Regions from separate parts of the Homo sapiens genome. Here region 2 is linked to region 1. Evidence: fine-mapped expression QTL. A gene starts in region 1. The other region holds a variant in brackets. All regions are shown on one strand. Distances are from middle to middle.

Region 1 (15,835 bases):
TAAATAAATAAAACCCATATACCAATAAGGAGGAGGCAACAATCCAACAGAAAAATGAACCAAAGGTATGCACAAGCAATTAATAGAAAACTCTGATGGCCGATAAATACATGGGGAAAAAAGGTCAACCTCACTAGTAATCTTAGAAATGCAAAATGAAAATAGCAAGGAGATGCCATTTATACCCAACAGATTGGGAAAAAATTGCAAAATCTAATCCTTTGGCAGTGATTTGGAGAAACGGGATCAAACACAGCGGGAGTGTCAAATAGAAGACAATTTGCCATTTTGGCAATTCCCAGTAAAGTTGATAATGCACAGACTTCTTAAATGAAGCAATTCTACTTCTACTATATGTATATAATCCCAAGAAAGACAAACCATGTATAAGGATGTTCATAGCAGTAGTGTTTGAAATTCAGAAACTGCAAACAGTTTCTATCGGTCCCTCCAAGAAGAAAAGATAAATAAACCACAGTATATTTATTTATACACTGAAATACAAATAAAATGAATGGAATCAGTAGTTTTCAAACTTCGTGGTCTCAGGACTCCTTTGCACTCTTAAAAATTAAGGATCACAATAAAATTTAAAAAACAAAACAAAAAACAAAAATTAAGAACCACAAAGAGTTTTTACGTGGGTCGTATCTATAGATGTTTATCATACTAGAAATTAAAACTGAGATATTTAAAAGCACTTATTAACCCATAAAAATACTTTTTTTCTTTATTCCTTTTTTCCCTTTTGTTGAGATTTTTTTAAAACTCTTATTTTAGGTTCGGGAGTACATGTGCAGGTTTGTCACATGGGTAAACTTCTGTCACGGGGGTTTATTGTACAGATTATTTCATCACCCAGGTATTTAAGCCCAGTACCCAATAGTTATCTCTTCTGATCCTCTCTCTCCTCCCTCCCTTCACCCTCTAGTAGACCCCCAGTGTCTCGTTTCCTTCTTTGTGTTCATCAGTTAGCTCCCACCTGTATGTGAGAATATTCGGTATTTGGTTTTCTGTTCCTGCGTTAGTTTGCTAAGGATAATAGCCTCCAGCTCCATCCATGTTTCCGCAAAAGACACGACCTCGTTCTTTTTTATGGCTGCATATTTATTTTAAAATAACTATTTTTCTAAACAAAAAAAAATAGTAAAACAAGTGGCACTGTTTTACATTTTTGCAAATCTCTTTCATGTCTGGCTTAATAGAAACCGGCTGGATTCCCGTAAGTGTTTCTGCATTCTATCTATTATGACATCATATGTCATGCAGCCTCTGTACAGTATTCCTATAGTGTACAGGAAAATGTGGGTGAAAAGAGCAAATAAAAAGTATTATGAAAATAGTTTTGACCTCATGGACCCCCTGAAAGAATCTTAGGGATCCCCAGGAATCCCTGCAGCACACTTTGAAAACTGCTGGACTAAACACATTACATGGATAAATCTCAAAAACACACTGTTAAGTAAAAATAATATATAAGGTATGGTTATGATACTGTTTATGTAAAGTTAAACACACAAGCAATACCTGATATTGTTTTGGTACATACATATTGGGACAGGTGGTTACTTCTGGAGAAAAGAAGACAGGAAGGGGATGGGGAGGGACCCTTTGAATCTGTGAGATTTTATTTCTTTAAACAACAAAAAGATATGAATCAAATATGTAGCAAAATATTAAGATCTCTTAAATCTGGGTGATTCTGATTTTCAGTAATTTAAAAATATTCCATAAAACTTTTTAAATATATTTTTTAAATGCCTAATGGCTGTGTACCTCAAGGCCACACAATTTCCTTAGAGTATACTTCCTTTGAGTAAAATACAATTACAAGATACCTGGGTTTTATAAAATGTTGTCTGGAAAAATAACTTGGCAGGAATAAGAATAGGCTGGCCATATTCCAATCAGATAAGGGGTGGTGGGAGGGGTTACTCCTTGACCTGGTGCCCTAATAAGTGTGCCTTAATATGTATGTCCCTGAGTCAAAAAACACACTGACTGGATACCTGATTTTTGAACAGCTGAAAACTATTAACTACGTAGAATTCTCTGTACCCAGTAACCGAAATTATTGCTTTGAGAGATAATGGTCCATATGCCAGGTACTGCTTGGAGACAAAGATAAATCAGAACTTGTCTCTATATTCACAGTGTAGAAGGAAAAAATATAAACACACAGTTCAAATATAATACATTAAATGATAAATTAAGGGGAATCCCACCATAGAAGACAGAGAAGGCACAGAGAGTTTCTGAAACACAGAGCACTTTTATATAACACACCTGTTAACATGCTGTGCAAGTTTCCCAATTTGGGTAATACTGGATTTAAGAATAAGTGGGGTGCAAAGAAAGTGAAGACAGGTGAGGCTTTTGTAAGATGAGCAAACCTAGGAATATTTGTAAAGAGAGGTTAATGATGCAAGAGACGGCATCACGCACAGAGCTTGGTCCCTAAGGAGGCAGCCAGGGTGAAGAGCAGGCTCAGAGCAGCAGTGGGGCTTGTGAGACAGCAATCCCTCCTGCAACCTCCCCTGCGGCAAAAGGAGGAAGGCCTAGGTGAAGACAGGAAAGGCATGAAGGGGAAGGGAGGGGAGACTTGGCTCTTTATCAGATGGCCATCTACCCTTCTCAGTGAAGTGAAAGACTGGGTAATCTTTGCTGAAGATGAGAGATTTCAAGGACCCGTTGAGTAGTTTTAAGAGTGAAAAAAAGTTTGGAATTGCCAGTGTACACAAGAACAAATAATACAAAGAAGATTATCAGTGACAGAATCAGTCTAAATGGGTTAAGTGAGAGTAAGCATTTGCAATGAGAGTAAGCATTTACAAAAAGCAATGTGGAAAAAAAAATTTGTAACACATTCGTGAGCATGTTTTTTTAAAAAAAGAAATCTGCATCTATCTGAAAAATACACAGAAATTAAAAACTAACACCTTATTCATCCAGGGTGGTTGGGTTCGAAGGTGTTCCACCAGTCAGTTTTCCAAAGTTTCAAGGTCTACCCTTTCAGGCAAAAATAATTTTATATTTAACCATTTCTAATTGAAACTAAACTACACACTTACCTGTCTTAATCACACAACTTGACTCTAATCTTAATCTTGAACATCCACTGTTGCTGTACTGCGCAGCAAAACAATTCTATCTTCTTAATAGTTCTTCTATGTCTTTCCCAGCTGTCAAAATATAAAAGCACCTGGTTCTTCTAAGTTTATGTTTACCCTTAACACCTCAACAACCACAGCCCGCCTTCTCAACTTGCTTCTAGTCAGCCTCATGCAATGCACTGTTTCTCGAACTTTTCTAAACCATAGCCCTTTATAATAAACATGAGACTCTCATTCCCTCCAGCCCTTTCATGGAGCACCGCTGCTCACGACCTGTTACAGTCTAGAAAAATGGAAAAACTGAAAATGGGTATCTATGCCACCTAAAGGTTTCCATCATAAAATTCTAGGAAACAGGCAGGGCACGGTGGTTCATGCCTGTAATCCCAGCACTTTGGGAGGTCAAGGCAGGCAGATCACTTGAGGTCAGGAGTTCGAGACCAGCCTGGCCAACATGAAACCCTGTCTCTACTAAAAATACAAAAATTAACCAGGCATGGTGGCAGGGTCCTGTAGTCCCAGCTACTCGGGAGGCTGAGGCAGGAGAATTACTTGAACCCGGGAGGCAGAGGTTGCAATGAGCCAAGATCACACCACTGCACTCCAGCCTGGGCGACAGAGTGAGATTCAGTCTCAAAAAAAAAAAAAAATTACCACGGGAATACTCATTTCTCATTTTCGTCAAATAACCCACAGCACTAGTCCTGTACTTTTCAACCATGGTAAATGAAATGTTAGAAACCCCTCCCTATTTGTGTACCATAGAAATTCTGACAACTCTGAGCAAAAGATTATTTCGGATGAGAAATCAGGATAGAAAAAAGGAGCAGCTGTCTTAATAGAGACGCATCGTTCCAAAAGTAGCAAAATTTGCTTAACTTCTGAACATTCTTGTAATCGTTCTGATAATGAAAACACTGATCAACTTACTACTCTCATTATTTTTCAACTTTGAAACTTTTCCTAGTCCAATGGAACTACTAAGTACCGTAAAGCACAGCTCAGGGAACAGACGGCAGTGACAGGCGGGCAGTGGGAGGCGGGAGAACGGCTTGAGCCCAGGAGTTCGAGACCAGCCTGGGGCAATATAGCAAGAACCTGTCTCAAAATAAAAAATAAGTAAATAACAAGGTGCAGCTCAGGTGTGCCATCACTCTTCTAGTTGAGGGCACCCCCGCTGCCTACCCCATTGAGTATAAGCCCCTCCACCTGGCAAGCAAGCCCTTCTGCAATCTAACTTTTCTAGCCTGAATTCCCACCACTCCCCTACCTATACCATCCACTTTTGCCAAACTGTAAATACTTACTGTTTACTGAAGAAGCTTCACCCTTGAAACGTCCTTTCTCCACCTCCACCTCTACCTAACAAAGTCCTACCCATCCCTCGGTAACCTTCTCAAAATGCCACCTATTAATACTTCAGGAACCCGTCCCTCCCTGATCCTCCAATGGCAACCTTGCTTCCCTCGGAAATCCCAGTAATTAGTTGTACCTCTCACTTTACTGCATTTCACCTTGCCCCACCTACCTCTAAACATGAGACTTCTTGCAGCCACCGTCTGCATTACAAGAACCTTTTTAATGTTTCTTAGCATCTAGCACGGTGCATCGCTAACAGTAGGCTCCGAGTTTATCAAGAAAGTTGCACAGTGTGCAATCAAAAAAGTACGTTAGGGGATGAAACTCCGCCTTAAAACTTCACAAATGAAAAATCGAAATACCATGACAGGCAAATGCACAATAAATATGCACCACACTAAGTTGTCCTCCAATAAGAAAATAAAAAAGTCTGCCCTTATTCCTCGATTTAAAAAAATACCACCAACAGATCACTACTTAAATCGTTTTTCAAGAAAGTTGTTTCCACATAAATGAGTACGAATGATTCAAAATTTTATTCCTCCGCTCTCGTGTTGTGCAATTTTTTTCCCTATAGGACAAAAGAATGGCAAAAACTTTCCCATCAATCTTTATTTTTCTTCCTTTATTCAGATACTCGGGGCGGCAAAGATTGTTGGAAAAACAACTGCATCGAAAGCACCTTAGCAGCCACATATGATTTGACTTAAGCAAAAATAACATTTCCTGGGGTCCCGTATGCCCTGGTAAGCCCAGGTGTCCGGAATGCCACCTGCCCCGACTGCCCTCGGGTGGCTACAGGCGCGGGGGAAGGCGCAGGGCCAGGGGCGCTGAGGGTGAAACGGTCCCGGCGTCCGGGCGGCGGCGGTGGCCGCCTGCGGCAGCTCAGCTGAAACGCAGCGGAAACTGCAGCCAGTCACGGGGCTGCGGGAGGCAAGGCAGGAAGGTGGCGCTGCCGCCGAGCGCCTGGAGCCCGAGCGCTCATCATGGCGGCAAGGGCAATGGCCGCCACGGGGAGCGAGCACGCCCCTCCGCGCGCACACGCCGCCGCGCCGGGCCTCCGGGGCCCGTCACCGGCGCCGCTGCCGCCGCCGCCCGCTCTCCCACCCCCCCTCACGGGCTGTAGCGGAATTTTCTCTCCAGACACCGCCTCCAAGATGGCGGCTCCCCCTCCCGGCAACCCCCTCTATCGTCCCCTGCAGCAGGCGCCGAGCCGCCGCCATCTTGTCCCCCGTCCCTCCCCCCCCCTCACCGATATTTACATAGCGAAAATCGGCCCGGCCGGCCTGCGGCCTTCACCTCACGCCTGCAGCCTTCGCCTCCTCGCCAGGCCTCACCCCGGCGCGGTGCCCCAGGTCGGCCGCGGAGCCGACCCGGGGCCCCTCGACCGCCTCCGGCACAACCGGGCGACCCTCCCCCAACCCCCGCCCGCTTACGGAGCGCGCCTCCGCCGCCGCTCGGGGCAGCCGGGCTCCTCCCCGGGCCTAACTGCGGCCTCCTCGGGGCCTGCTCGGCGCCGCGCGCCACGCCGCCCGGCCTAGCGCGGGAGGGCGCCTTGCGGGCCGCCGACCAGGCCGAGACCAGGCCGCTGTGCGCGCACTAGGCCCCGCGGCCGCGGCGGCACCCGGGACTCACCGGACGGACGTGCGGGCGGCCGGCGACGGTGGCGGGTGCTGCAGGCCGGCCTTTCTCTGGAGCACTGGGCCGGGCTCCGGCTGGTGGGGCGGGCGGAGGGAGGGAGGAGGGGCCGAGCTCGGAGCTGACAAAAAGCGGCCCAGCTCCCCGGCACGGGCCCGCCGTCAGCACGTCACGTCACCGCCCGGGAGAGAGACCCAGGAAAATGCGGAAGGGTAGACAGGCCCCCTCCTCCGCCCGGTGGGTCCTCCTGGCACCCCGTGTCGGCGCCGCTCCCGCCCCGCGACCGGGGAGCCCAGTGGCCTCGCTGCGGCGGGGTCTCCGGCGGCCGGAGTCTCCGTGACAGCGCCCCCCTTCTTTCCACCTCCTCCGCGCTCCCGCCCGCCGCCGCCACACACGCGCCGCTGCCGCCGCCGCCTCGGCCGTAAAGCCCGCGCGGGGCCGCGGTCGGCCGACCCCGCGGAGAGGCAGGCGGCCCGGCCGCCCCCCACCATGTCCCGTGGGCCGCGGCCGCCCCCCGGGGGCCTCCCTGGAGACCTACCGCCTCTCGCGCCGGTCCTGGCCGAGGCTCCAGCTCGAGTTGTTTGCAGGCCCTCAGACCCCCGCCCGCAGTAAATGTGTTTTCTTCATCCCCGTGGCTGGGGAGGAAGATAAATTTAGCAACCCCCGCCGTCCCCTGCCTTCGCTTAAAAAAAAAAAATCTTTGAAATAAAATGAAAACGGGCTTGCCAGTCTAAATGGGTGTGCGGGAAGGGGGGTGGAGTGGGGGGAGAAGGGTTATCCCTAGAGCACCTACCAGGCCGTCTACTTTTTAAAAATAAGCAGTCAGAGCCAAACTGATTTTATTAGTTTGTACGGGGGAGGGAGATGAGCAAAGTTGCATTTTGAAACGTTTCGCACGTTGCAAAGAACAGGAATTTTCTGTGTATTTTCCTATGTACCCGTGTTTCAGAGCTTGGGAGCCTGTGAAATGTAAGACTGGTGTCATCGTTTCATAAATCATGAATTTTCCACATTCCTTAATAGAGAGGAGCCCAATTGGGTATGGATTTTTTTTTTTTTAAACACACTGCTTAAACAAGCCTTTTGAAGTTTCAAAAGACTTGGGAGAGAAGGGGAAAATGATTAAACAGCACTTACCAACTTCAAAAATGTGTATTTCGCACTTTACTTAGTTTAAATGTTTATGCTATCTTTCCATGCTGAACTTGGAACCCAAACTCTGTTTTAAAGTTACTAGGGAAAAGTTAAATAGTGGAGTCTTTACATTAATCTGGAATCTGGCATGCTATCCTTTAACACAGCACTAAATGTTAAAGGCATTTTTAAACAATAAGAAACACAAAAATTATAAAGCAAATAGTATACTGGTGTGAAATCTCTTTAAATACAGAGGCCACGTATTTTAGTTGCCTGACATAACTCTTTAAAACTCCCAGAATGCAATTTGTCCCTTCCCTCAGACATCTCTCAATCACAAATGCTTTCAAAAAGGAAAAACAAAAGTAGAGTAAGAAGAAATCTCTGAGCATGCACTGGATGATAATTTTCCTCTCGGGGCTTTAGTCTGAATTTTTCCAAGCGATTAAATTTCCTTTCAAAAATAGTAACAGCATGTATTCATTGTTTATAAAAATTACATCAGGCTGTGATAGACTTTCACAGAAAGACATTTCACAGAAAGGTAAATGAAACTAAGCAATGTTGTTTCAATAAAAAAAAATGAGAAATAGCTTGTGTGCCCACATTAATATTTCTTGCACTCCCAGACTGGAGTGCAATGGCGTGATCTTGGCTCACTGAACCTCTGCCTTCGGGGTTCAAGCGATTCTCCTGCCTCAGCCTCCCGAGTAGCTGGGATTACAGGCACTTGCCACCACGCCTGGCTAATTTTTCTATTTTTTTAGTAGAGATGGGGTTTCACCATGTTGGCCAGGCTGGTCTCCAACTCCTGACCTCAGGTAATCCACCCGCCTCGGCCTCCCAAAGTGCTGGGATTACAGGCGTGAGCCACCGTGCCCGGCCGCCCACATTAATATTTCAAAACATTGATAATCAGCGTTTAAGTACTTTCCAAGGGCCTCAGTGTGATGCTACGGTATGGCAAGAATGGAGGCCAGGTTCCCTGGTTCAGTCCTGTAATCACAGCACTTTGGGAGGCCGAGGCGAGAGGATCACTTGAGCCCAGGAGTTCAAGACTAGCCTGGGTAACATGGTGAGACCTCGTCTCTATTAAAAAAAAAAAAAAAGAAGAAGAATAGAGCCTCACTTCATCCATGCAACTGTAAGCAGCATGTTCAAGACAGAAAAACCTAATGTCACCATTCTTGTTAGTTTTTCCATAATTACCATCAAAAATACTTATACATCCACCAGTGTAAAGCACTTAAGAAAACAGTGTCCAAGGAGCATGAAAGAAAAAGAAGTTTTCTCAGTTTAAAAGATCACAAGTAGTTTAGGGATTGATACTTTCAAAGAGCCCTTTGTCATTACTTTTCATACAGGAAGAGACTGTTAACTTTGGTGGGAAACAAAGAAAGGATGGCCTAGTTCTATTAGATTAGATAAACCTTTATTAAAGTCCAGCAAACTTTATAAAGTCCAGTTATTTTATAGATGACTATACAGATAAGGTCAACTATATTTTTTTTAGTTAAAAAAAGGTAAAGTTGTACTTTAAGCCCATTTATGGAAGTCTGTAAAGAACATTGTTTAACTGGTAAAAGAACAATGGTAAAAATCATTTCACTAGAAGTACACTTAGTATTATACTCATGATAAAGTGAAGATGAAAAGGAAGTGTAAACAGCAGAGATCAGAAATTGTTTGATGTGACAAAATACAAAATGCATTTTATGAAAGTACTCACAATAGGACCTTGAGGACACCTAAGATCCTTGAAAGCATTTGGTAATTAAGCACCAGACATCTTGCACTTAAAGGACCTACTGCAGCCTATCTTGCCTTGATAATTGTTTTCGTATTAGGGACCTTTAGAATTCTGGGCACAGGAAGTAACAAAGATGTGCTTGCCCTTGGGGAACTCGAATAAGGAGGCTGTGTAAGGCAAAATAAAAACATTCCTAAGTACTTTCATTTTCTCACTTAAGTAAACATAATAAAAGGAAATTTTATCTAGGGAGGTCGAGAGCAGAACATTTCAAAAGAGAATGCTATGAATACAAAATAGCTGGTTTCAAAGCAGTAAAAGGAATTTTGATTACGTGCTAAAATGTATTTGTTCCTTCAGAGCTGTTAATGTACATCAGATAGTTAAAAGCATTTACTCAAGGTTTTGACAGTGTTTTAATAAATTAACTAAAAATCTCTGACATGTTTATAGGTCCTTGAGCCAGAAACGATAGAAGGCCTTTCAATCATTTTTCCAGAGAAAGATTAGTCAGAAAAGAAGCTGTTGATTTTCACTCCACATCGGAGACTGATGGGAATTCAAATAAGAAGCAATAAATTATTGGCTTATGAGAAAATGTAGACCTTCTTGAATAAAGTTGTGGTAATTCTTTTTTTTTTTTTGTATCCCAAACATTAAAAAATATTTATCTTCCCCTAGAAAGGCCCTAGTTTTATTGAACTAAGCATGCCCTACAAAAATTAACCATTTATCTGACACCTGATACTTAGGTTATACTTAGCGTGAGCAAGTTGCATCTTCTGTTGGAATTCAGTTGGCCATAATTAATGCCAAGTAAGAATTTTTCATCTGAGCCCTTAAGCCACACACTCTCCCCAAGGAGAATAATTTTAAAATAAACAATGACTGGCAAATAGGTGATTTTCAAGCAGTGCTTTTTACATGAGTCATTAGTCGAACAAGACATTGTTTAATTCCTGAAAATAATAGCCAAATTCTTCATGGATTATAAATCACAGGGCACAGCAAACAAACTAGCTCCACTAAAGAGATAAAAAAATCAATATAGAGGCCTAGAAACAATGAGCAGTAGCAGTGAGCACCCCTGGTGTCCAAGTTGGGGCCTCTACAGTTTCCCACCAAAGGAAAGGGAGAAGTGATTGATTCCAGGGCTGGAGCAGGAAAGTATAAGATAAGCCAGGAACATCTCCTTATAGCAGAAAGCAAAAGAAGAAAGTGTCCAAGCTTACTAGGTTGTCTAACATTAAGAAAATTTGGATGTCAAAAAAAATTGCTATGGAGTGAAACATAGTGGATATGTTAATGAATTTATGAGACTTTAAAAATGATCAACTAGTGGTGATGGTTGCACAACTTTGTAAATGTACTAGAAATTAGTGACGTATGTATGCTTTAAAAGGGTGAATTTGATAGTATAAGAGTCATATTTCAATTTTTTAAGTGATCACTTTTGGAGAATGCTAGGGAACCAACTCAATATTTTGAAAACTAGTGAAGGAAAAGAGATGAAGCCTGTAAGATCTACTCCTCAGAGTAACCAAATAGTTGACGAAGGGACCTTCCTTTTAATAGAAGTATTCCAACTAATACATGAAGAAGTCCTGATGAAATTAGAATATCACCATTTTGGATTTTGTCGACTGCAAAATATCACCATTTTGCAACATCTAATGAATTAATGGACCTTGGCAATGATCATCAGTGGCTGCTAAGCAGAGAGAAAACCAGAAACATGCCTCAAGATGGAAGGACAAAATGCTACTAGACAAAAAAAAAAAAAAAAAAAAATCGAACCTGAGTTTGATCAACCTTCTAGCTCTAACTACCAGTTTACAGGAAATACAGGAAACAGAGAAACATATCAATGAAACCACAGGGATGCGGTCGACAAAATCCAGTTGATGAGAAACTCTAAAGGACAAATGAAAGATAAGAATAAACAAATAAATTATAAGAAAACAAATTATAAGAAAAATTCAACATTTAACAAATACATTTCTTCAACAAACAACTTATTAGAAAAAAATAGGAGGGGAATCAATAGATTAGAAAAGACTTAAAAGACATGTTCATCAATGGCAGTGTATGAACTTCATTTCATTTTTTTTTCTTGTGGCAGGGTCTCTCTCTGTTGCCCAGGCTGGAGTGTAGTAGTGCAATCACGGCACACTGCAGCCTCGACCTCCCAGGCTCAAGTGATCCTTCCACCTCAGCCTCTTGAGTAGCTGGGACTGCAGGTGCACACCAGCACACCCAGGTAATTTTCGTATTTTTCGTAGAGACAGGGTTTTGCCATGTTGCCCAGGCTGGTCTTGAACTGGACTCAAGTGATCCACCTGCGTCGGCCTCCCAAAGTGGGGGGATTACAGGCACAAGCCACGGCACCTGGCTCATTTCAATCTTGATTCAAACAAACTGTAGGTAAGGTGCGGTGGCGCATGCTGTAATCCTAGCACTTTGGGAGGCCAGTGAGCTCAGGAGTTCAAGACTAGCCTGGACAACATGATGGAACCCCACCTCTACAAGTACAAAAAAATTAGCCAGGCACGGTGGGGCTCCTGTAGTCCCAGCTACTCAAGAAGCAGAGGTTGGGAGGATCGCTTGAGCCCGGGAGGTTGAGGCTGCAGTGAGCTGAGATCATGCCGCTGCACTCCAGCCTGGGAGACAGAATGAGACCCTGTCTCAAAAAATAAATAAATAAATAAATAAATAAATAAATAAATAAATAAAAACAAAAAACTAAAAATATGAGACAATTGGAGAAATATGAACACTGGATTTTGTCAATACTGACTGGATACATGCTCATATAAACAAATTATTGTAATGTTAATTCATTTAGATATAATGATGGTGTGATTATGTCTAAAAACTAGTCCTTATCGGCCAGGCACAGCGGCTCACACCTGTTATCCTAGCACTTTGGGAGGCCGAGGTGGGGCGGATCACGAGGTCAGGAGTTTGAGACCAGCCTGGCCAACATGGTGAAACCCCATCTCTACTAAAAATACAAAAAATTAGCCAGGCGTGGTGGTGAGTGCCTGTAACCCCAGCTACTCAGGAGGCTGAGGCAGGAGGGTCACTTGAGCCCAGGAGGCAGAGGTTGCAGTGAACTGAGATTGTACCACTGTACTCCAGCCTGGGTGACAGAGTGAGACTCCATCTCAAAAAAAAAAGATCTGCCGTTACCAACGCGGGTGAACATCGTCCAATCCATTGAGGGCCTAAATAGAACAAAAATTCAGAGGAAAGGTGAATTCTCTTCTTGAGCTGCCCTGGGACATTGGAGCTCCTGGTTTTCAGGCCTTTGGACTCAGATCAAATTACACCACCAGTTTGCCTTGTTCTCCAGCTTGCATAAGGCAGACTGTAAGACTGCTTGGCCTCCATAATCACATAAGACAATTCTCATAATAAATCTCCTCTTATATATCTATGTATATATCTTATTGACTCTGTTTCTCTCTGGAGAACCCTGACTGATACAGTAGGTATGGGATAGGGCCAGTTTAACCAGGAGTCTTGGTGATACACAGACAAGTCATCCACACACCAATAACACTTTAAGAAATATTAGTACATCCTTGTAAATGCCTCTTGCCCACATGTATAAGAGTTTTTCTTGGAGTATAAACAAGTAAAATTTCAGAATATGGCACATTTTCAATATTACTCTCCAAAATGACTATCCTAATAAACATTCCCTCCAGCAGAATATGAGAATTCCCAATTCCCTACTCCTTCGTAACTCTTGATGTGCTCATACTTTTTCACAATCTAATAAGTGAGAAATGGTAAAATTGTTTTAATTGACATTTCCTTGATAACAAGTAAGTTCAAGGTATCTTTCACTCTTTATTAGCTATAGTTTTCCTCATCTGAAAATTGCCTTGGAATAACCTTTGTCTGTTTTTCTATTGTTCTTATTCATTTGTAGAAATACTTTCTACATTCTGAATATACTTCTTTGCTAATTATGTATGTTACAAATATCATTTCCTTGTCTGCTGCTTGTCTTTTAACTAATTTTGTCTAAGGTAGTTTTTCTAGTTGCACATCTTAAAGTCAATTAAAATCCTGGGGAACTTTTTTTTTAAATGAGATAGGGTCTCACTATGTTGCCCAGGCTGGTCTCGAACTCCTGGCCTCAAAAGAGACCCCCCCCCCCCTCCCCCGCCGCCTTGGCCTCCCAAAGTGCTGGGATTACAGGCATGAGCCACAACACCCAGCCAAAGTAATGTCTTTTTATTTATTTAGTTAGTTAGTTAGTTAGAGACAGGAGTTTCGCCCTTTCGCCCAGGCTGGAGTGAAGTGGCAGGATCACACCTCACTGCAACCTCTGGTTGCCAGGTTCAAGTGATTCTCATGCCTCAGCCTCCCAAGTAGCTGGGATTACAGGTGCACACCACCACACCTAGCTAATTTTTGTATTTTTAGTAAAGACAGAGTTTCTCCATATTGGCCAGGCTGGTCTCGAACTCCTGACCTCAGGTGATCCTCAGCCTCCCAAAGTGCTAGGATTACAGGCATGAGCCACTGTACCCGGCCCCAAATTAATATATTTAAATCTACCAATACCACTATACATTTTGTGGAATTAAGAAATTTGCTGTAGGCACATGACCAGTAAGTACTTTAGTGCTGGTACATGCTTGGACTTTCTGGGTTTTTTGTTGTGGTTGTTGTTGTTTGTTTTGTTTTGTTTTGTTTTTGAGACGAGTCTTGCTCTGTTGCCCAGGCTGGAGTGCAGTGGCACGATCTCAGCTCACTGCAATTTCCGCCTCCCGGGTTCACACCATTCTCCTGCCTCAGCCTCCCAAATAGCTGGGACTACAGGCGCCCGCCACCACACCCAGCTAATTTTTTGTATTTTTAGTAGAGACGGGGTTTCACCGTGTTAGCCAGGATGGTCTTGATCTCCTGACCTCATGATCCACCCACCTTGGCCTCCCAAAGTGCTGGGATTACAGGCGTGAGCCACTGCGCCCGACCGACTTTCTGTTTTTGTCCTAAATTTTCTTTTCTTTAAAACCTTCCTTACCAAAAATACATCTTCATATCTATAACTTTCTTCACATCTCTCCTCTACTTCCTGGTTCCTTTCTACCTTGTTTCCTGAATAACATTTTGAAGTCTGTAATTTGAATTAATCTTCAGATAACTTCTGAATTAGATAAAATTATTCTTTCTCTCAATAAAACCACATCTTCTTGGGCACATATTATATACAGAATTATATCTTAACTAGAATTCTTTTCCTTAGTAACTTTAAATTTAGTGAAAACCTGGGAAGCAAGAAATCCTGAGCTGCCTATCACATATTAGCATTTTATAGATGAGAACCATTCCACGATTTTTAGAAACATGTTTCCCCATATCATAATCTTTTCTTAATGGGAAATGACCCAGACATCCAATGAAGCAGCAAAAATAACTTTAAGATTTTAAGTTAGACAAGAAGTTCACCTATAGCACTTACTCATTGATATTTTGTTTTTAGCAGTTTAGGTTATTTATAAATCATTTCCTTGTTATCTATTTTACAAACTGTGAATATCAGGTGTTCACCTTTTAAGAACCTTAAAGGTAACTACATGGGCATTTTCACCACTAACTCAGAATATTCTGCTGTTTTTTTTTTCATTAAACCAATAATATTAAATTAGTCTTACTTACTTAAAAATGTGCATAAAGGTCATTTTGTTTTGGCTGGGTTTATAGTTTTATAACCTTCTGTGCCAAACCCTGATATCTCAAGATATCTAGCAGAGACAAATATAAAACCCAAACAAAAATGTATGCTGACAACTCTGAAGACATTTCTATTTTTATTTTACCAATAATTTTATTTATTTATATTTATTTGTTTGTTTGTTTTTTGAGACAGAGTCTCCATCTGTTACCCAGGCTGGATTGCAGTGGCGCCATCTCGGCTCACTGCAACCTCCACCTCCTGGGTTCAAGCGATTCTCCTTAATCAGCCTCCCAAGTAACTGGGACTACAGGCACCCACCGCCATGCCTGGCTAATTTTTGTGTTTTTAGTAGAGACGGGGTTTCACCATGTTGGCCAGGCTGGTCTCGAACTCCTGACCTCCAGTGATCTGACCGCCTCGGCCTCCCAAAGTGCTAGGATTACAGATGTGAGCCACCGGGCCCAGCCTCAGTTGGGCTTGTTCAACCTGCAAATGGGAATTCCTTTACAAATTTCCCAAACTGAAAGGAGCAGATCCTGCTGTCTGGGCCCAAAAAGTGCACTCATCCTATCTGGATGCAGTTGTCAAATTTCAAAGACTGTTCTTCCGAGGCAATCAGGAACCCTGTTGGGGCTGGCTGCAGAGGGGCCAGAGAAAAGGAAACTCACCTCCAGCCTAAATTGGGTGGGCAGCTGCTTAGGAGGGCTTCTGAGACTCCCAGCAGCCCACTGCAGCCAAGCCACAAGCAAAGCATACTGGGTCAGGGAACCAAAATCTGTTACTAAAACACCAGGGGCTCCATCTAGGTTCTGCTGCTCGTGCACAGAAAGACAAATCACTGAGACAACAATGATTGCCAAGGAAGAAGGTTTTAATCAGGTGCTGCAGCCAAGGAGATGGAAGATCAGTCTCAAGTCCATCTCCCTGACCAACTAAAATTAGGGGTTTATATAGCAGGAAAGAAATGTTAACTATGTATGGGAAAACAGAGGAAGCAATCATGATGAATGAGGGTGTCTTAACATCTGGATGCAATGATCTGGTGGGTTTCAGTTATTTGATACCTTTTGAGAGGCTTGGTATCCCATTGCCTAGATCTGGTAAGTTTCAAGTTTTAAGACCAGAAAGGTCAATTTCTAT
Region 2 (15,835 bases), 83 kb before region 1:
GAGCCTGCCACATCCCAAGTTAGGGGTGATAAGAGGGCTTTTTAAAAACGTAACTGATCACACCTGTAATCCCAGCATTTTGGGAGGCCAAGATGGGAGGATTACTTGAGGCCAGGGGTTTGAAACAGCCTGGGCTTAATATAGTGAGACCCCATCTCAAAAAAAAAAAACTAATTAAATGTTGAGAAGGAGACACGAACTCTTTCAGCATAATTAAGTTCAAAATATACACCAACAGGAAGTTCTCCTTCACAGAAATGTCTGATTGCTTTATAACTATTTCACCCACAAGTCACGGCATCACGATGAACTCTTCCACTGTCGACTTCCACCTTCAGGACCCTAAAGGTTTCTCCCCCTCACCTCTATCCAAGAGGGAAAGTGGATGGGCTACAATGTAACTGACAGTCCATGACAGAAGAGGAGACAGGAAGATGAAAGAGGATAACAGATAAAAAGACTAAGGAATATGGGGAAAGGGACAAAGATGGGAAGGAAATGGTTCAAGGAGGTCACTCTCTACTGACTGAAGGACCGGACACAGGTACATAAGATGAGTTGAATGGATAAGGGCCAACCTTCCAAGATCTTTAGACTCCATATGGCACAGAAGATGAAGGAAATAACCAACTTCGTATGTTTCCTTGGCTGAGGGTGTGGGCATGCTACACGTTTTACCTCTCTAATCACCCAGAATACTTTGCTTTTTCCCAAGTAGAAGACAAAGACAGGAAAAGGTCATGCAGGGGATAGTTCTTGACTGTCCTGTCCCTTCTCCAGCAAAGCAAGGGGCATAGGGCCTGGGTTATATTTGGAGTGCTGTAAACCATCTTTGGGGTTTAAGGTCTGATATTCAGATGGACTTCAGATTAAAAGTTGCATGCTGGCTGGGTGTCGTGGCTCACACCTGTAATCCCAACACTTTGAGAGGCTGAGGCAGGAGGATCACTTGAGCCCAGGAGTTCGAGACCAGCCTGGGAAACATGGTGAAACTCCACCTCTGTAAGCAAAATAATAAAAAATTAGCCGGGCATGGTGGTGCACACCTGTAGTCCCAGCTACTTGGGAGGCTGAGGCAGGCAGATTGCTTGAACCCAGGAGGTCAAGGCTGTGGTTAGCCGTGATCTCACCACTGCACTCTAGCCTGGGCGAAACAGTGAGACCCTGCCTTATTTTAACAAAAAAAAAAAAAAAAAACCTTTCATGCTAAACCTGAACCAGAAAACATTTTCACCATGTTTCACCAACAATGATGTCAAAAAATAGGAGCTGCCCAGCTCCAAGCCATGATAATTCTGACATTAACCCCAGATAGCCCAAGAGAGAGACATTGTGAAGTCTGGTATCAGAGTGGTACATCTGGTGAGAATATGCTGTTTGAATTGTATATACCAGAGAGAAAACCAAACATACGTGATATTATGTAAGTCTACCAAATCGAGAAAATCCATTGTCTTTTTAACACCTAATCTCAGTTGGGCGCGGTGGCTCACGCCTGTAATCCCAGCACTTTGGGAGGCCGAGGTGGGCGGATCATGAGGGCAGGAGATTGAGACCATCCTGGCTAACACGGTGAAACCCCGTCTCTACTAAAAATACAAAAAATTAGCCGGGCATGGTGGTGGGCGCCTGTAGTCCCAGCTACTCGGGAGGCTGAGGCAGGAGAATGGCGTGAACCCGGGAGGTGGAGCTTGCAGTGAGCCGAGATCGCACCACTGCACTCCAGCCTGGGCGACAGAGCGAGACTCTGTCTCAAAAAATAAATAAAAGTAAAACCTAATCTCCACCAATGACCAAATTTTTTATTTTTATTGTTTTTTTTGATGGAGTCTCACTCTGTCACTAAGGCTGGAGTGCAGTGGTGAGATCTCAGCTCACTGCAACCTCTGCCTCCTGTGTTCAAGCGATTCTCCTTCCTCAGCCTCCCAAGTAGCTGGGATTATAGGCTTGTGCCACCATGACCAGCTAATTTATTTTTTGTATTTTTAGTATAGACGGGGTTTCACCATGTTGGTCAGGCTAGTCTCAAACTCCTGACCTCAAGGTGATTCGCCCTCCTCGGCCTCCCAAAGTGCTGAGATTACAGGTGTGAGCCACACCACACCCGGTCTTATTCTTATTTATTTATTTTTATTTATTTATTTTTTTTGAGACGGAGTCTCGCTCTGTCGCCCAGGCTGGAGTGCAGTGGCACGATCTCGGCTCACTGCAAGCTCCGCCTCCCGGGTTCACACCATTCTCCTGCCTCAGCCTCCTGAGTAGCTGGGACTACAGGTGCCCGCCACCATGCCCAGCTAATTTTTTGTATTTTTAGTAGAGACGGGGTTTCACCGTGTTAGCCAGGATGATCTCGATCTCCTGACCTCGTGATCTGCCCACCTCGGCCTCCCAAAGTGCTGGGATTACAGGCTTGAGCCACTGCGCCTTGCCCCTTATTTTTATTTTTTTGAGTCATAGTATCTTTCTGTCACCCAGGCTGGAGTACAGCCGCATGATCCAGGCTCACTGCAGCCTTGACTTTCTGGGGTCAAGTGATCCTCCCACCTCAGCCTCCCAATTAGGTGGACCACAGGTGTGTACCACCACACCTGGCTAATTTTTGTATTTTTAGTAGAGATAGGGTTTCACTATGTTGCCCAGGCTGGTCTCAAAATCCTGATCTCAAGTGATCCGTCTGCCTTGGCCTCCCAAAGTGCTGGGATTACAGTTGTGAGCCACCCTTGCAAGATGGCCAGTTTCTTAAGAAATTGAAGTTGCTTCTGGATGGGGACAGGGGATCCATGACCAATATGCCTGCACTCACTCAGGGTCCTATTGGGCTCCACCAATGCTATCAGCTCCCTGGGACTTAGTAGCCTCTGTGAGGCTTGTGACAACATAGGCTTACCAGAAACAAATTAGTAAGAAGTACCTCTTAAGGTACCAGATCAGAAGGCTTGATCTGTGATTAGAGGTGCCAATGAAATAGTAAACAGGTGGAAGCCCCAAGAAGTGAACATCAATTAAGTGACTCCAGTGTGAGAGTTGTTCATGAACCTTAGGTCACCAAAATTGGTTTTGGTTTTGGTTTTGGTTTTTGAGGGCTGCTTTATACCCCTAGAGAGAATAGCAGAATGGACAACTACTGAAATTCACAGGCCCAATTTATCAGCACAGGTTGGTGAGAAAGGAGAAAGGGCACCTCTGTTTCTTCAGATTGGAACAACAATCACAGCAGGCATCTACTGGGGAAGAAGCCAGCAAGGCTAGAAGGGCCAGAGGCGCCAGGAGCAGCAGCTCTCAACCTCGGCTGCACAGAGTCATCTGGGGAGCTTTTTATACTGATGCCTGCCCTCCTCCCAAGAGATTCACCTTCAATTGGCCTGGCCTGAGTCCTGCAAAGAGGAACTTTGAAAGGATCCCAGGTGAGTCTAGCATGTAGCTAGAGCTAAGAACCTCTGATGTAGATGAAGGGCCTGTAATCCTAATTTATACTCAAGATGTATTCAGTTATCATGGACTTCATCATAATCTTCAGAATTCTCATAGTTGGTGTAGCTGATCTGAGGGAGAGGAAAAGGTTACCATATCTGTTCTCCAAAAGCAAGTTTACATGATGTATTAGTCTGTTTTCCCCTGCTGATAAAGACATACCCGAGACTGGGTAATTTATAAAGAAAAAGAGGTTTAATGGACTCACAGTTCCACAATCATGGCAGAAGGTGAAAGGCACATCTTACATGGCAGCAGACGAGAGAAATGAGAGCCAAGCAAAAGGGGTTTCCCCTTACAAAACCATCAGATCTCATAAGACTTATTCACTACCATGAGAACAGTATGGGGGAAACTGCCCCCGTGATTCAATTATCTCCAATTATGTCCCTCCGACAACACGTGGGAATTATGGGAGCTACAAATCAAGATGAGATTTGGGTGGGGACACAGCCAAACCATATCACATGATAAAGCTCAGATGGAGGATTCTGGTGGAGATCTGTGTGAGAGAAGTGATTCCAAATACAAGATGTACCCAGGATGAGCAAGATGCCAGTGCTTTGCATGAGCAAAGTCTGAAACCTGAATAGGGCCCCCCTCCCAAAAGTTCAGTTACAAGACTGTACCCACTAGTTTGCTTTCAGCTGAACAGAATGAGTTAGAAGTGGGGTAGCACAGGTCGGATGCGGTAGCTCACACCTGTAATCCCAGCACTTTGGGAGGCCGAGGCGGGCAGATCATGAGATAAGAATTTGAGACCAGCCTGACCAACATGGTGAAACCCTGCCTCTACTAAAAATACAAAAGTTAGCCAGGTGTGGTGGTGCGTGCCTGTAATCCCAGCTACTCAGGATGCTGAGGCAGAAGAATTGCTTGAATCCAGGAGGCAGAGGTTGCAGTAAGCTGAGATCATGCCACTGCACTCCAGCCTGGGCAACAGAGCAAGACTCCATCTCAAAAAAAAAAAAAAACTGGGTAGCACTGAGTTTTTGGCTACTCATAACCCTGGCATTTTGGAAACCCAGACACATGCAAAATGAAAGCTAAAGGGCTAGCTCCAAACATTGGGAGGCTCTGTGTGTCCTGGGTTTGCTTCAAGCCGCAAAGAAAGAAGGTCATGCAGCAGCAGTCTACAAACACAAAGATAACCGCTTGGTGAGCATATCCTCCTTTTCATATTATGTAGGGCAGAAACTGTGGCGTGTCTGCCACTCCCTGGCTCTGAAGTTTGTGAGAAGGAATCATGATTGAGTCAAGCTCGACCTGGCAGGACCTCCAGGATTTCAAAAAATAAGTAATTAAATTCACCCCAAAAGGAAAAGGATAAAGATTGAACTGGAAGAAAAGTTGTCTCTGGGTGCTACCATAAAATACCAGGATTCTGTTTAGAGAGACTTTCAAATACTTCCTTGGGAAAAGCCTAACAGGGACAAAAATTCACAATCTTCCCTCACTATCTTCATTTTCTAAGGGAGGAAAATTCTTCATGTTACAGCTCCTAGGTTTCCTTTGTTGTAGAGAACCCACAAGGAGAAATTAAAAAAAAAAAAGGAAATAAGGCCAGGCACGGTGGCTCATGCCTGTAGTCTCAGCACTTTGGTTGGGAGGCTGAGGCAGGCAGATCACTTGAGCCCAGGAGTTCGAGACCAGACTAGGCAACATGGCAAAAAAAGCCGGGCGTGGTGGTGCACGTCTGTATTCCCAGTGACCTGGGAGGCTGAGATGGGAGGATCGCTTGAGCCCAGGAGGCAGAGGTTGCAGTGAGCCATGATCATGCCACTACACTCCAGCCTTGGTGACAGACCCTGTCTCAAAAAAACTAGATAAGATGTTTAAGATCTATTTGAAGGTATCAGAGATTCCAAGTTGGAAAAAGATGGGCAAAAGGGAAAAAATAGAAGCTGTATGGACTAGATATTAGAGGGGACTTGGGTAGGGCTGAAAAGTGCTAGTTGGAGAGATTTTCAGAGCTCTATTGCCAGAGGTGTAGGGTATATTTGGGGAGAAGAAATATTTAAGATGTTAGGCATTAAAAATACATTTCCTCTTTGGCTCTTCTCAAGAAACAAAATGCTGCAAATTACTTGTCATGAATTTTAGCTGCTGACCTAGATTTCTTTGGATGGATGCCTTGCAATAAATGGATTACATATGGTCTTGATTTACATTAAAATTATTAGGGGTATATATGGAAAACAGAAGATGACTTAAAATCCATTATAATTAATATCTGGAGAAAGATTAAAGAGGTGATCACATTCATAAAACAAGAACTGGCTGTGAAGAAACAAACCAGTGAAAGATTAGAAAATTAAAAATTGAATATCAAAAAACTCTAGCTGGAGAAAAAATTTTTCTGAGTGATTTTTAAAAACACAGTGCAGGCTGGGCACGGTGGCTCACACCTGTAATTGCAGAACTTTGGGAGGCCGAGATGGGTGGATCACCTGAAGTTTTGGAGTTCAAGACCAACCTGACCAACATAGTGAAACCCCATCTTTACTAAATATACAAAATTAGCCAGGCATGGTGGTACATGCCTGTAATCCCAGCTACTTGGGAGGCTGAGGCAGGAGAATCACTTGAACCTGGGAGGCGGAGGTTGCAGTGAGCCAAGATCACGCCATTGCACTCCACCCTGGGCAATAAGAGCAAAACTCCATCTCAAAAAAAAAAAGTGCAAAAGGGGAACAAAAGAGACAAAGACAAAAATGTCCAAGAAAAGTTAGAAAACAAAGATCCAGATGTATCAACATTGATCTGATGAAAGTTCCAGAGAAGCTAAAGAAAAGAGAGGGGAGAAAATCATTTTTGAAATGAGATGAAAATTCCCCAGAGGTGAAAACAAGACACCAGTTTTCATATTTAAAGAGTCGCTCAAATGCAAGGAAGATCAGTTTTTAAAAATATATCTGGGTCTATCATGGGGAAATATCAGGACACCAAGAATAAAGAATAAAATTCATAAAGTTACCAAAGAGAAAAGACATACTGCTTCAAAATAAAATGGAATGAGATTATGCTTAGAATTCTCATCAGTACCTCTAAATGTAATAAGAAAGGCACTAATATAGCTGCAACTGTCAAGAGTGAGAACAGAAGAAAGACGTATTGAGACATGCATGGACTTAATATTTATCTTCTTAAACCCTTTTCAGGAATTTAGAGGATGTGTTCCAGCATGTGACTATGTAAGCCTAGAAAGAGAAAGATATAATGTTAAAGAAATAGTAAATATAACTAGGAAAATAATAAGTAATTCAAGGATAGCAGCTGCACAAATCAACCTGGAGAGAAATCAAGCCAGTTGGAACAGGGGAAGGAGGATCCCAGAGAAAAATTTTTGTGAATAAAATCCAGCCAACTAAATCCTGAATCAAAATAAACAGCTCAAAAACAGCACTGCAATGGTGAAAAGGCTGGTGGTGAACAGTGTAACCATATACATTTAGAACTACCACTAAACAACTCTGTAAATTATGACCATA[G/T]AATAGAATGCCAATTCCAAACACTTTGATGAAGTAAAATAACCAACAACAAAAAATGAAAGGTAGGTTTTCTGTTTCAGGCAGAAGTAGACTAACTTTTTGCATACCAACTCTCTCACTAAGCACAATCAGAAAAACTAGACAAGATGTTTAAGATCTATTTGAAGGTATCAGAACTAGTACAATGAGGACGTGAGAGCAAAGATAGATGAGAAACATACAAAGATGAGACCAACATTCAGTGCTGCTTTTCCATCGAGTCATCTACTGATTTAAAACACACACACACACACACACACACACAGCTGAAAGGCTGAAAAGCTGAGCAGAAAGTGATGACTCATATATACGGAGGAGCTGTGCAGTGCTTCCAACAGTCTCAAAGGGATAGGGAGGAAATTAGACTTTAGAGTCCACCAAGGAAGAGACCCTCATAAACACTCCATGCTTTCAGCTGGAATATCTGAAAGGCCAAATATTTAGAAAACTGGTGAATCAGAAGTGAATAAGCCCTCAAAAAGACTTATTCCCAGATTCAAATCAGCTCAATCCCTGAGTAGATTAAGGAGAACTGGCCCACTTTCAACTGACAGCCAGAAGCTAAAATAAAACTATAAGAAAATAACACCGTAGGCAGGGCGTGGTGGCTCACACCTGTAATCCCAGCACTTTGGGAGGCCAAGACAGGCAGATCATCTGAGGTCAGGAGTTCGAGACCAGCCTGGCCAACATGGTGAAACCCCATCTCTACTAAAAATAACAACAACAACAACAAAAAAAATTAGCCGGGCATGGTGGCATGTGCCTGTAGTCCCAGCTACTGATGAGGCTGAGGCAGGAGATAATCTGATAATTGCTTGAACCTGGGAGGCAGAGGTTGCAGTGAGCAGAGATCACACCACTGAACTCCAACCTAGGCGACAGAGCAACACTGTCTCAAAAACAAAGAAAAAACACTGTACAGGGAATCAAATTATGTCTATAATTTTTCATGTGCAATACCAAACATTCAATGAAAAACTATTAGGATGATTCTGGCCAAGATCGACTAAAAAGATTACCTTTATCCTCCCATCCAAAACAACCAAAAAGATGGTGGGGGGGGGATGAAACAATAGGTTACAAGACACTGAACATTAAAGCAACAAATAACAGTCATGGAGAGAGCTTGGAAACAAGGTAAACCCTAAAATTGCCCTGCATTACTGCCTTGAAAGAGTTTCCAGGTCACGGTGCGGGGAAGGAGAACCCTGCATAACCTAACAAACAGCCTGAGTTGAGGAGACAAACTGAGAATCTGGGGTGACAAAGCAGCTAGAATCTGCAGGAATGAGTACCAGAGAGGAGGAAACTGCAAAGACAGAGAAAACTCCAGATATCTGCAGAGGGTTCCCCTTGAGTATTCAACAGAGTACTAATCAGTCCAAGCATGTTTGGAAACTACCCAAGGCCAGGGAATGAACCAGCTGAAGAGATTAGAGGGAATGGTGCTGAGAATTTACACAGGGCCAAGTGGAAACGGACTGTTTCCACTAACGAGACTGGAAAACCTCAAAATGCACAGGGAATTTGGTAGAGTACGCAGAAGAGTCTTGGGTCAGTTGTGGGAATAATTAATCCTAAAGGATTCTGGTCCTGCCTAACAGATTTTAAAAGCAAGACCTGAAAGGATCAAACTGTTTCCAAGTAATTTAACTGTGTCCCAGAATAAAGCTCAAGAATGTTTATGGGAATAAAAATTATCAAACATTCAGCAAGGTAAAATTCATAACGTCTGGTATCCAATCCAAAATTATTAGGCACAGGTCAGGCACGCGCCTGTGGCTCATGCCTGTAATCCCAACACTTTGAGAGGCTGGGGTGGGAGGCTCGCTTGAGCCCAGGAGTTCGAGAACCAGCCTGGGCAACATAGTGAGACCTCATCTCTACCAAAAATTTTAAAAATTAGCCAGGTGTGATGGCACATGTATGTGGTCTCAGCTACTCAGGAGGCTGAGATGGGATCGCTTGTGCCTGGGAGGTCAAGACTGCAATGAGTCACGATCACGCCACTGCACTCCAGCCTGGGTGACAGAGCAAAACCTTGTCTCAAAAAAAAAAAAAAAATTACTATGCACGGAAAGAAGGAAGATACAACCCAAAATAGGGGGGTGGGTGGGGAATAAATCAATCAAAACCAACCCCTAAATGAACGGATGTTAGAATTAGTAGACAGGAACATTAAGAGTTATAACAGTATTTCATATGTTCAAAAAGTTAAGACATGGAAGATTTATTTTAAAGACCCAAATCAAACTTCAAGAGATGAGAATTACAATGTCCAAGATGAAATATACTGGCTAGAATTAATAACAGATTAATAATAGCCAAAACTTTTGCAAGATACAAACTAGAAGAAAACATTTGCAAATCATATACCCAACAAAGGATTTGTATCCAGATAATAAACTCATAACAGTAAAAAAAAAAAAAGCCTATTGAAAAGTGAGCAAAATGTATTAAACCAAAAATGATATGTGATAAGTGAGCATATGAAAAGATGCCCAACATTATTAGTCATTAGGGAAATGCACATTAAAATGGCTAAAAAAGGCCAGGTGTGGTGGCTCATGCCTGTAATCCCAGCACTTTGGGAGGTCAAGGCAGGTGGATCATCTGAGCTCAGGAGTTCGAGACCAGCCTGGGCAATATGGCGAAACCTGTCTCTAAAAAAAATACCAAAAAATTAGCCAAGCATGGTGGTGCGTGCCTGTAGACCCAGCTACTCGGGAGGCTGAGGCAGGGAGGATCACTTGAACCCAGGAGGCAGAGACCATCGTGAGCTGGATGCCACTGCACTCCAGCCTGGGCAACAGAGTGAGACCCTCTTTCAAAAAAAAAAAAAAGGCTAAAAAAGAAAAGAAAACTGACAATACCAAGTGCTGACAAGGATGCAGAACCACTGGAACTCTCATATATTTCTGATTAGAATACATATGGTACAGCTACTCTAGGAAATATTTTGACAGTTTCTTAAAAAGTTGAATATATACTTACCACACTACCCAGCCATCCCACTTCCATGTATTTACCCTGCATAAATGAAAACTTATGTGCACAAAAACCTTTACGTAAATGTTTATAGCAGCTCAAACCATAATTGTGAAAAAAAAGGAAACCCAAATGCCTTTCTTTTTTTTACTTTTTTAAAAAAATGTTTTAATTTTTCATTTTTGTGGGTACACAGTAGATGTATATATTTGTGGGGTACGTGAGATGTCTTGATACAGGCATGCAATGTGAAATAAGCACATCACGGAGAATGGGGCATCCATCCCCTCAAGACTTTATCCTTTAAGTTACAAACAACCCAATTACACTCTTTTAATTATTTTAAAATGTTCATTAAGTTATTGTTGACTACAGTCACCCTGTTGTGCAGTCAAATAGTATGTCTTATTCATTCTTTCTAACTATCTATTTTTTGTACCTATTAACCATCCCCACCTTCCTCCCAATCCCCCCACTTCCCATTCCCAGCCTCTGGTAACCATCCTTCTATTCTCTATGTCCATGAGTTCAATTGTTTTGATTTTTAGATCTTACAAATAACATGCAATGTTTGTCTTTCTGTGCCTGGATTATTTCACTTAACATTATGATCTCCAGTTCCACCCATGTTGCTGCAAATGATAGGAATTCATTCTTTTTTATGGCTGAATAGTACTCCATTGTGTATATGTACTACATTTTCTTTACCCATTCACCTGTTGATGGACACTTAGGTTACTTCCAAATCTTAGCTGTTCTGAACAGTGCTGCAACAAACGTGGGAGTGCAGATATATCTTTGATGTACGGATTTCCTTTCTTTTGGGTATATACCCAGCAGTGGGATTGCTGGATCATATGGTAGAGATCCATTGCTGGATCTCTATTTTTGGTCTTTTGAGGAACTTCCAAACTGTTCTCCATAGTGGTTGTACTAATTTATGTTCCCACCAACAGTGTATGAGGGTTCCCTTTTCTCCATGTCCTCACCCGCATGTGTTATTGCCTGTCTTTTGAATATAAGCTTTTTTTTTTTTTTTTTTTGAGATGGAGTTTCACTCTTGTTGCCCAGGCTGGAGTGCAATGGCACGATCTCGGCTCATCACAACCTCCGCCTCTGGGGTTCAAGTGATTCTCCTGCCTCAGCCTCCTGAGTAGCGGGGACTACAGGCGCCTGCCACTAAGCCCGGCTAATTTTGTATTTTTAGTAGAGACTGGGTTTCTCCATGTTGGTCAGGCTGGTCTCAAACTTCCGACCTCAGGTGATCCGCCCACCTCAGCATCCCAAAGTGCTGGGATTACAGGCGTGAGCCACCGCGCCCGGCCGAATATAAGCCATTTTAACTGAGGTGAGGTAATATCTCATTGTAGTTTTTATTTGCATTTCTCTGATGATCAGTGATATTGAGCACCTTTTCAGATGCCTGTCTGCCATTTGTATGTCGTCTTTTGAGAAATGTCTATTCAAATCTTCTGCCCATTTTTTGATAGGATTATTAGACTTTTTCCTATATAGTTGTTTGAGCTCCTTATATATTCTGGCTATTAATCCCTTGTCACATGGGTAGTTTGCAAATATTTTCTCCCATTCTGTGGGTTGTCTCTTCACTTTGCTGATTGTTTCCTTTGCTGTGCAGAAGCTTTTTATGTGACCAAATGCCTTTCAATGGGTGAATGAATAAACAATTGTGGTATAGCGTTATAATGGACTACTACTGAACAATAAGAAGGAACAGACCATTGATACATGCAACTACATAGATGAATCTTAATGACACTATGCTGAATGAAAGACACCCTCAAAGATGTATGATTTCATTGATATGACATTCTGGGAAAGGGAAAACTATAGTGATGAAGAACAGATGACTGTTTGCCAGGGCTTAGAGGTGGGATGAGGGTGTAATTACTAAGACACAGCCTAAGGGAGATTTGGGGGATGATGGAATTCCGTATCCAGTTTGTGGTAGAGGCTATATAAATCTATGCATGTGTTAAAACTCATAGAACTTTACACCAAAACAAGCATCAATTTTACTATGTGTTATCTTCTAAATACAGACCTGAACACCAAATAGGTCAATTTTACTCTTTATTATTTAAAAGTAAAATGGAAACACAATGAGATATCACAACGTACACCCTAAAATGGCTAAAATGTTTAAAAGACTGATCATAACAAGTGCTGGCGAGGATGTAGAGCAACTGCAACTCTTAACACTGCTGGTGGAATTGTAAAATGGTACAACTATGTAGGAAAGTTTGGCTATGTCTAAAATATTAAATATATACCTACCACACAAACTAGTCATTCCACCTACCCCAAAGAATTGAAAACATATGTCCACACAAATATATAAATGTTCATGGCAGTTTTATATGTAATAGCCCCAAACTGTGAACAATCCAAATGGCTATCAAGAGGTGAATGGGCAGATTGTGCTGTATCCATACAATGGAATAATACTCAGCAATTAAAAGGAATAAACTATTGATATATGCAGCAATAGAGATGAATCTCAAAATAATGGTTCTGAGTGCAGGAAACAAGACTAAGAAGGGAAAAAAAAGGAGTAGCAGAGTTAAGAGATGATATGTAGCCCATAATGAAATTACTGAACTAGAAGGCAGGTTAAAAGAAACTATCCAGAATGAAGCATGGAGAGACCTAAAACATGGAAAATATGTTTTGAAAAGTGCAAGAGACATACAGGATACAATGTGAAGGCCTAACAAATATTTCTCCCTTTTTTTCTTTTTTTGAGACAGGGTCTCACTCTGTCGCCCATGCTGGGGTGCAGTGGTGCAGTGGTGCAGTCACGGCTTACTGCAGCCTTGATTTCCCAGGCTCAAGTGATCCTTCCACCCTCATACACTGCTGATGGGAATGTAAAATCATGCAACTGTTTTGGAAAATAGTCTGGTAATTGCTAAAAATGTTAAAAGTCAAGGTACTATATGAGTCAGCAACTTCACCTCTAGGTTCATGGCCAAGAGAAGTGAAAACATGTACACACAAAAACTTGTACACAAATACTTACAGCAGCATTATTCATAATAGCCAAAAGGTGGGACAACTCAAATGTCCATCAACTGATGGAAGAATGGATAAACAAAATGTGGTATATCCATACAATGGAATATTATTTGGCCATTAAAAAGAAACAAAGTACTGAGACATGCTACAACATGGATGACACTTGAAAACATTGTGCTAAGTGAAAAAAGCCAGTCAAAAACAGCATATATTTTATGATTCCATTTATATGAAGTGACCAGCATAGCAAACCTATAGAGACTAAAGGTAAACTAGTGGATGTCAGAGGCTAGGAGGATGGGGGGAGTGGGAAGTGACTGCTTATGGGTATGAAATTTCTTTTTTATTATTATTATTTTTTATTTGGAGACGGTGTTTTGCTCTTCTCACCCAGGCTGGAGTGCAATGGTGTGATCTCAGCTTACTGCAACTTCCACCTCCCAGGTTCAAGCGATTCTCCTGCCTCAGCCTCCTGAGTAGCTGGGATTACAGATGCCCACCACCATACCTGGCTAATTTGTTGTATTTTTAGTAGAGAGGGGTTTTGCCATGTTGGGAAGGCTGGTCTCGAACTCCTGACCTCAGGTGATCTGCCCGCCTCAGCATCCCAAAGTGCTGGGATTACAGGCGTGAGCCACCGCAACCGGCACTGGGTATGAAATTTCTTTTGAGAGTGATGACATATTCTAAACTTAGATCATGTTGATGGTTGGACAATTCTGTGAATATACTAAAATTTGAATTGTATACCTTAAATGGTTGGATTTTACGGTGCGTGAATTATATCCCAGTAAAGATTGTTTTAAAAAGCCATGATGGGGCCAGGTGCACTAGCTCATGCCTGTAATCCCAGCACTTTGGGAGGCTGAGGCGGGTAGATCACTTAAGGCCAGGAGTTCGAGACCAGCCTGGCCAACATGATAAAACCCTGTCTCTACTAAAAACACAAAAATTAGCTGGGGGTGGCGGTGCGTGCCTGTAGTCCCAGCTACTCGGGAGGCTGAGGAAGGAGAATCACTTGAACCCGGGAAGTGGAGGTTGCAGTGAGCTGAGATTACACCACTGCACTCTGGCCTGGGGGACAGAGTGAGACTCCATCCTCCCCCGCCCCTGCAAAAAAAGTTATGGGGCACAGTTACAGAGAAAGACAAATGACAAATGGAACAAAACAGAGATCCTAGAAGCAGATCCACTTACACAGGAATATTTTATATATCATGGAGCTGGCTCTGCAAATTAGTGGGCAAGTATTGATTTTTTCAATAAAGAGTTGAACTGTATGAAGTTGAAGTTGAAAAACGTTAAAGTGAATGCTTAACTCACACTATAATCCACATCGAATCCGTTTCAGGATAAAGACATAAGTATGAAAAGTCAAACTACAGAGCTTTAAAAAACTAATATCAGAGAATAACCTCATTACTATCAGGAAGGATTTCTTAAGACACATAAAGCATTAATCATAAGGAAAAGATACCAATTTTACCAGGTTATAATGATGAACTTAAGTTAATCAAAAGACACAATAGAGTAAAATGGCAAGCCACAGACCAAGAGAAGATATTTACAGAGATTTTAAAATTACATGTATGGCCAGGTGTGGTGGCTCATACCTGTACAGCACTTTGGGAGGCCAAGGCAAGAGGATCACTTGAGCCCAGGAGTCTGAGACCAGCCGGGGCAACACGGCAAAACCCCATCTCTACCAAAAAAGAAAAAAATAGAAAAATTAGCCAGGCGTAGTGGCATGCACCTGTGGTCCCAGCTACTCGGGAGGCTGAGGTGGGAGGGGTGGTTGAGCCCAGGAGGTAGATGTTGCAGTGAGCCAAGATTGCGTCACCGCACTCCATCCAGCCTGGGCGACAGAGCAAGGCCCTGACTCAAAAACTAACTAACTAAATAAATAAAATTACATATAACTGACAAAGGACTAATATCAAGACTATATAAAGGGGCCAGGCATGGTGGCTCACACCTGTGATCCCAGCTCTTTGATTGAGCCCAGGAGTTCGAGATCAGCCTGGGCAACATAGTGAGACCTTGTCTCTTAAAATAGATGATAGATAGATAGATAGATAGATAGATAGATAGATAGATAGAGATATAGATGTTTATGGATCAACAAGAAAAATGTAAGTGATCCAATAGAAATGGGCCATTCATAGAAAATAGGCCAAAAAAAAAACCAATATAGGCTTGTCACAAAAGAGGAAATGTGAATAACCAATAAATATGTGAAAAGATGCTCAATATTATTCATAATTAGGGATATGTTCATTAAAATCTCAATATAATATTCTTTTACATGCACAAAATTGGCAAAACTTAAAAGTGTGCCAATATTACCGTGTTCTCATTGCTGCACATCCTCACCAAAACTCAATATTTTCCAATTTTGCTGTGAAGAGTGTAAATTGGTCCATTTTGAAACAAAGCTTAGGACTGCACATGTGAACAAAAGTTCTCTGGAAAGGAATTTGGAGGAAAGATACTTTATTTCAGTGCATGGTTTGCAAACTAGGGAGAGGAAGGCTTCCCTGTAAAACAAAGGTGTTTTCCAGAGAACAAAAACAGGGTTACGGTCTCATAGCAAAAGTTCTCGACCAAGTTCCCAATCTGGTCTGTTCATGCAAATAAAGGACTGAAACTTAGTTTTGATTGGTCAGTGAAGCTGAGTTCTGATTGGTTGATACAGCTGAGCCCTGATTGACTGAGGCAGGTATGCTCTGATTAGTTGATTCAGGTGAGTTCTGGAGTCCCAAAGTTGAACAGAGGTGTGGATTTAGGGGGAATTCAGAGGATATGGG

Alleles and levels. Alleles are on the strand shown, and positions count from the first base shown. SD is a standard deviation of normalised expression in the study named.
As copies of G replace T in region 2, the expression in fibroblasts of the gene that starts at base 6,173 in region 1 goes down (small effect, 0.35 SD a copy in GTEx).

Evidence for each region. PIP is the estimated chance that this variant, and not a neighbour inherited with it, causes the effect.
Region 2: its variant is the best candidate, but not a certain one, in a credible set for the expression of ZFX in fibroblasts (GTEx, PIP 0.64).

What each region holds. Positions count from the first base shown.
Region 1 is chrX:24,140,067-24,155,901 of GRCh38, reverse strand. ZFX (zinc finger protein X-linked) reads right to left here and starts at 6,173. Exons shown (of 10, transcript NM_003410.4): 1 at 6,108-6,173; 2 at 4,102-4,211; 3 at 3,072-3,182. ZFX-AS1 (ZFX antisense RNA 1) reads left to right here and starts at 6,248. Exons shown (of 3, transcript NR_046657.1): 1 at 6,248-6,347; 2 at 7,060-7,149; 3 at 9,451-9,677. RefSeq lists enhancers at 2,242-2,331, 5,717-6,530, 6,737-6,836 and silencers at 5,167-5,676, 5,727-5,776, 5,797-6,206, 6,267-6,626.
Region 2 is chrX:24,222,752-24,238,586 of GRCh38, reverse strand. No RefSeq gene overlaps it. Among named protein-coding and RNA genes, the nearest start is that of ZFX, 81 kb to the right of the region's middle. RefSeq lists enhancers at 2,999-3,188, 3,249-3,358 and a cis regulatory region at 7,128-7,479. The variant G/T (reference allele first, on the strand shown) is at 6,963.